Homo sapiens: one gene and its partner. Changing the gene in region 2 together with the main gene of any one other region gives a genetic interaction. Each region holds a gene or a part of one and is shown on either strand. Other genes may lie near its edges.

Region 1 (3,808 bases), on a different chromosome or scaffold from region 2:
CCTGCGGGGATCAGATTTCCCTGGGGTGGGGTCCTGGAAATAGGGCATCAAGAGGAAGTCTCTAACCCTGGGAGTTGGAGGGTCTCGGGTCCATGGCTGAGGGTGGATGTGCTAGAACTGGACTCTGGAACCTGAAGACCCCCGGATGAGGGTGCTCAGGGCCTGGCTGGGGAGACTCTTGCCTTGTTCTCCCCAGTGTCCAGGCCTGGGCTGCCCAGGGGACACTTCAGTTGATGACGTCATTGTCCAGGAGGCTTTTCTCTTGGACCTCAGTTTCCCCTTCTGCAGGATGGGCTGGACCCACTCTGTCTAGCTCTACCACCCCCTAGTCCCTCTGGGGAGCTGCAGGAGCCTGTTCCCACGGCCTCGTCCTCACCCGCCACGGAGACCTCGAAGCCAGGCCTGGCCCAGCTAGAGGAGGTGACGGGTGGCCCTGCCCTGTCCCTGTCCCCATCTCAGTCCCCTTCCCACGGGACCGGTGCTCCCGGCTGCTCTCCTGGCCCTGGGTCCCTCCTGTGACTCAGGCTTCCTGGAAGAGGCTCGGGAGGGCTCGGAGGATTCCCCGCCACCCCACCCAGGGTTTCTGCCCGCCTGCCTCAGGTCCCTGTCACCACCCCTCCTGTGGCACACGGTGTGCTTTACCTGCTCATCCACTCCGCCCTTGCCCCTAGAGCCGGTGCCTCTTACTCCTGGCACCCCCACTCTGGCATCTTCTACTGATGCCTGGAACGCTGGCCCCCTCCTCTGGCTCGCCTGGTCCTGGGGCCCCTGCCAAGGCAAACATCTTCTCCTTTAATCTCCCCGTCCTGGGTCAGCCGCAGAGGCCCTTCCTCCCGGGCTTTGCTTCCCTCTGGCCAGCTGCCCAGAGGCCCATCTGCTGGGAATTGCCGTGTGGAGCTCAGGGGGTCCCTGGGGGTGCCCGGGGCTCCCGGCTGCCCCTCCCCTCGGTGGCCTCCCTGTCCCCTCCGCATGGCCCTGGGGAGCTACAAGGCCTGGCCCTGGCTCTGCCGACTCTCCCTGCTCCTGCCCTTTCTGGGCCTCCGTTTTTGTGTCTGGAGAATGGGGAGCCTGGGGGAGACCCCGGCCCCCACAGCAGATGGGTGGGATCAGGACAAAGGCCTGGCAGCTGAGCTCCAGCCACCTGAGCCAGGCTGCTTGCTTCTGAGTCGGTGACTGCAATGGATGGACGGGGTCCTGGTGGCATGCCCTTTACTCTCTTCCAGGCCTGTGACCTGGGGGAGGGCTGTCCATGGGTGCCTCAGTTTCCCTACCTGCCAGGTTGTGTTCTTGGGGCAGGCTGGGGACGTGCAATGGCAGCACTGCGGGACCCACAAGGAGCTCACATGGGGGAGAGGCGACATTTGAACAACGCTTCAAACATGTAGTTATTGTTTTCTCTTTTTTGAGACGGAGTCTCACCCTGTTGTCCAGGCTGGAATACAGTGGCACGATCTCAGCTCACTGCAAACCTCCGCTTCCCAGGCACAAGCGATTCTCCTGACTCAGCCTCCTGAGTAGCTGGGACCACAGGCATGCGCCACTATGCCCAGCTATTTTTTGTAGAGATGGCATTTCACCATGTTAGCCGGGCTGCTTCTCCTGGACTCAAGTGATCCTCCTGCCCCAGCCTCCCAAAGTGCTGGGATTACAGTGTGAGCCACTGCGCCCGGCCCACCACTGTGCCTGGCCTGCCTCTGCGCCTGGCCCACCTCTGCGCCTGGCCCGCCTCTGCACCTTGCCCACCACTGTGCCCGGCCCACATCTGTGCCCGGCCCACCACTGTGCCAGGCGCAAACGTGGTTATTGTTTTAGACACACATTTGGTGATGTTCATTATAAAAATTCAAACAGCCTGGGAAATACACGGCTGCAGTAGCTCTGGGCTTCTGCTTCATTTCACAAGAACCGTGCCGGCCTCGGGTGCTGTTTTACAGTGTCACTTGAAATTTCCCTGGGTGTTGACTGGGGTCCTCTCCCGATGGCACCCTTGGACCCTGGTCTCTGGGTCTGGTCAGATGCTTGTTTATTAACCAGCCATCCCCCCACCCCCATGATGGGCTCTCCTAAGTGAGGCCATGGACAGCCAGGATGTGCGTCTCGGCACCGGGGTGAGTCTTTCTTGGCCCGCTGGCAGAACCCTGGGTCAGATGGGAGGGTTGTTGGTGCCCGGCTGTGTGTCTGCCAGCCCCTTCATCCCTATCCTGGCTGCTGTGTAGCTCCTGCCTCCCCATAACTCTTGGGGGGCTGCCCGGGTCCACACTGGCCCCGTGGGGATGGCAGTAGGCAGAGAGGGGCGGTCCTGACCCCAGAGAAATCCCATGGGTGAGTAGGACTTGTAGGAGATGGCAGTTCCCTCCCTGGAGCATGTGTCCCCAAGACTTAGAGGTCGTGGTGGGGCAGGAAGCAGGTAGTCAGGGTGGGCTTTTGGGAGGAGATGGCATCACAGTACGGAGGGAGTCATGCACGAGGCACCAGGAAGGGGCAAGCCGGGTGAGGACAGGCTCCTCCTGGGGACCCAGGACCTGACGGAACGGCATCACTCTTAATGGCACCGTCGCGAGCCTCTTCTGGGCCAGCAGCCGGAGCTCACCCAGGGCACATCCTTAAACCTCAGGGTCCCCTGGTGGCAGCTGCCATGGTCGTCCTGTTTCCCAGGGAGGGAAGCTGGTGTCTGAGGCTGGCACTCTGCTAGGTAGCACAGTTGGGGAGTGGCAGTGCTGGGATGGAAGACAGACAAGCTGGCACCTGCACATCTGCACGTCCTGTCGTTGAGGTGACCTCTAGCCAGCCAGCTCATCTGCTCCTTTGCAGATGAGGCCAGAGAGACGGGAGTCTCTGGTGTGGAGGGGAGGGCACTGGGTTTGGTGGGCTGGCCCTGGGGTAACTTGCCTGCCTGTGCTTCAGTGTCCCCCTCTGTAAACAGGGTGTGACGTCCCCCCGGCCATGTCGGAGGCTCCGAGAGGGCAGCGGGTCCATCTCAGCAGATGCTCTGCTGACGGATGCTGCTGGCTGGCCCCTGCTCCCACCCTCCCCTCCTTTGGTAGCCTCCCTGGGCCGGGCTGTTCCCACGGCTGCCCAGCCACAGGAAGCCATCTGGAGGCCTTGTTTACCCCTCCCCCTGGCCTCCCTGGCAGGAAGTCACCGGAAGGGCCGTCCCGAGGGGCCCCGGGCCTGTGAGGACAGCCATCGGCTCAGAGGTCTGTGCTGTGGAGTCCCAGGATAGCATGCGGGGGCAGGGAGCTCAGAGAACAGCAGGTGGAGCGGGGCTCCAAGGCACTGGAGCACGTGGGCCGGAGCATGGACAGAACCATTTACCGAGCGCATCCATCTGTCCATCCACACAGTCACCTACCCCTCCCCCGCTGTGGCCCCAGCAGGGCCCAGTCCCATGAAGCTCACAGTCTCAAGGCATGGACGAGGCCACTCCAGCTTCAGCCCAGGGGGGCCCCGTGATGCCAGGGCCATTCCTCCAGCTCCCGGGATCCCACACCTCCCCTGATATCACACAAGCCACCCTGGGTCGGGGCTGGAGGAGGAGACCTGGGCAGCAGCTGGGGTGTCCAGGAGAAGGGAGTTGGGGAGAGGGGTGCCAGCAGAGGGTGCAGCCTCTAGAAACATTGGAGGCCGCCCTGGGTGACGGGTCTGAGGCTGCAAGGTGTGGGTGGAGCAGGTGAAGGGAGAGGTGGGCAGGCACAGCTGGCAGGGGCTGAAGGCATGGATGGGACCAGTCGGGGTACTTGTGGCCCTGCAGAACCCCTCTCTCCACCACCTCCTCCAGCCCTCTGGCGCCCTGCTCAGGGAGGGCTCC
Region 2 (2,805 bases):
GTAAGCAGAGCTGAGGACTGATCTTTAAGCTGCCTCCTGGCCCTGCTCGTGAGTCTCAGGAAACTGTGACACTCACCTGGCCCGGGGGTCCTGGCCCAGGGGTCCCCGCTCCAGGAGCCACCCAGCAAAGGGAAAAGGAGAGGGCACTCCTGAGGGTACATGGCCCACTCACAGGGGGTACAGCCTTGTGTGGCAGGAGGGACGGAGCCCGGCTGTCCCATCGCAGTGACTCCAACCTCTAATAAGCCTCAAGACACTCGGGGCTCGGGCGGCGAGATCCTGGCAACAGAGTAGGGTAGACGTTGGGGCCTCAGGGCCCCCAGCTGGCTCCTGAGGCACAGGCGGCGCGGCCCTCACTCTGGCCACAGCAGCCAAATGCTCCCGTCCTTATTCACAGGCTGGGGGTGTGCGGCAGGGAGAGGAGGGTCCTGACCGATCTCACCGGGACCCAGGTCCTGGCCCTCCCGCCCGTGGGTTGCCACACCCCACGGCCCGAGGTTGACATGGCCACACAGCTTTGGTAAAGACTTTTAAGAGAAAGAAGTATTTTAAAAAGTAGCAGTGCTCTGAGGCTCAGGGTGTAGGATCGGGGGCACAGCCTGGTCCCGGGAGGCCCCTTGTGCACAGGTGGTGGCCCAGGGCCACAGTGCTCGCTCTTGGGGGACGCGCGGCCGGGGGACGCGGCCTGTGTCCGGCCCGGGGCTCCCGGCGGGCTCCGGCGGCAGGGACAATGGCGAGGCCGCTCACCACTTGAGGAAGACCATCCCGGCCAGGACGGTGTAGCCCAGCACCAGGAAGAGGACCTTGAGCAGACGGTCACTCTTCTCCTCCAGCTCCTTGGCCAGGATCTCCAGGAAGGTGATGAAGAGGAAGGTGCCGCCCGCCAGGCCCTGCAGCAGCACGGACGCCACGCTGCCCGGCACGCCCTGGGCGCTCTCAATGCCCAGGCCCAGGCCGATGCCCAGGGGGATCATGGCGCTTACGGTGACCGCCAGCTTGGCCGCGTCCCGCAGGGGCATGGCACTCCGGGCCATGCTGATGCCCAGGGCCACGGCCACCAGTGTCTCGTGGACGGCCACCCCCACGAACAGGCTCACCACTTTCTCCCCCTCCTCCTGCAGGCCCAGGGCCAGGCCCTCAAAGACCGAGTGGGCCGACAGCGCGAAGGCCAGGCTGAGCAGGCGCACGGGGCTGGCGCGCGAGAGGCCCTGCACGCTCAGGCTGGGGCCGTGGCCGTGGGGCTCCACGTACAGCGCGTGGCCCCGCGCGCCCCCCATGAAGGGGCTCTCATACTCCGAGTCGCTGCCCACGTCCGATCCGGCGTTGAAGGTCTCCAGGTCGATGAAGGACGGCTTCTCCTTGCGGAAGGTCAGGATCAGCTGCTCCAGGAAGACGGTCATGAAGAAGCCCAGCAGGAGGATGGTTTCGGCCAGCGGGTAGTCGGTGCTGATGTGGCCGAGGCTCAGGACCTTCTGGAGCTGCAGCCGGGGACACCCGAGAGAGAGAGAGAGACCCACGCTCAGGGGTGGCGGCGACAGGGCTGGCCAGATGTCACCGTTCAAAGCAAAGTCCAGAAATCCCCGATTCACACAGAGGTTAAAACAAGTGGGAGAGGAAGGGCTCGCCTGTGATGAATTAACACCACCACCACCAGCCAAGCGCGGTGGCTCATGCCTGTGACCCCAGCATTTTGGGAGACTGAGGCTGGCGGATTGCTTGAGCCCAGGAGTTCGAGACCAGCCTGGCCAATATGGGGAAACATGTTTCTACTAAAAATACAAAAATTAGCTGGGCATGGTGGCGAGCACCTGTAATCCCAGCTACTCAGGAGGCTGAGGCAGGAGAATGGCTTGAACCCAGGAGGCAGAGGTTGCAGTGAGACGAGATCGTGCCACTGCACTCCAGCCTGGGCGACAGAGGGAGACTCCGGCTCAAAATAAACACATAAAGAGCTGCACTGGCCTTGCGTGTTCTGCCGCGGGGCCTCCTCTCTGCTTCCCTGACCGACATGCCTGGGCCCGACTCTCCTCCTGGTCAGGGCTCTCCTAGCGAGGGGAGACTTTGGTGGGGAGAAACTAGACGTGGGTCAGACGGGAGCCGCAGGGCGTCTGCAAGAGGTACACACTCCTATGGGAGGGACAGCTGCTCACGGGGCGGACACGCAGGCATTAGGCTATGCGCCAGGATGAAATGTCTCATGAAAGGCAGGCTGTAAACGCCCACAACAGCTCCCTGGAGCCTCGTCACGGCAGGGCCAGAGTTCACAGCCACCCTCCAGAGAGACCTCGAGACCAAAGTGGAGGAAAATCACAACACAATCGACACTCAACAATGCCTGCTTCCCTGCTTCCTTCCCAGCGGAGACTTCATTACAACCTGCGCACGTGCACACACACACACACACACGCATATGTGCACACACGCACGCACACACACGCGCACACGCAGGTGCACACACAAGCACGCGCACACAGTGGTTCTCAACCAGGGCGATTCTGCCCGTGTGGACACCTGGCAATGTCTGGAAACATTTTTTATTTTCACAACTCGGGTAGGGGGAAGGTGCTGACATTCGGGGCTGGATTGTTCTCTGGGACGGGGCCGTCCTGGGCACTGCAGGGTGCTGCTGAGCAGTGTCTCTGGCCTCCACCCACTCCAGGCCAGGAGCACCCCCCATCGTGACAACCACAATGTCCCCAGGCATCGCCCAGTGTTCCCTGGGGGCAGTTCACGCTGGGTGAGCCTCTGCTGCAGCAGAAGGCTGTGTTTCCACGGAGAAGCCACTTAACTCCCTCACTGACCACC

The links.
Region 1: changes in SLC39A3 (region 2) and PTP4A3 together harm fitness less than expected from each alone (positive genetic interaction), as found in Homo sapiens cells (one study listed by BioGRID).

What each region holds. Positions count from the first base shown.
Region 1 is NC_000008.11:141,398,521-141,402,328, forward strand, and holds part of PTP4A3 (protein tyrosine phosphatase type IVA 3), read left to right. Parts: intron 1-2,050; exon of another isoform or gene 2,051-3,808. UniProt on the Homo sapiens protein: Protein tyrosine phosphatase which stimulates progression from G1 into S phase during mitosis. Enhances cell proliferation, cell motility and invasive activity, and promotes cancer metastasis.
Region 2 is NC_000019.10:2,732,008-2,734,812, forward strand, and holds the end of SLC39A3 (zinc transporter ZIP3), read right to left. Parts: exon of another isoform or gene 2,519-2,805; intron 1,479-2,518; coding exon 744-1,478; 3' UTR 517-743; downstream 1-516. UniProt on the Homo sapiens protein: Transporter for the divalent cation Zn(2+). Mediates the influx of Zn(2+) into cells from extracellular space. Controls Zn(2+) accumulation into dentate gyrus granule cells in the hippocampus.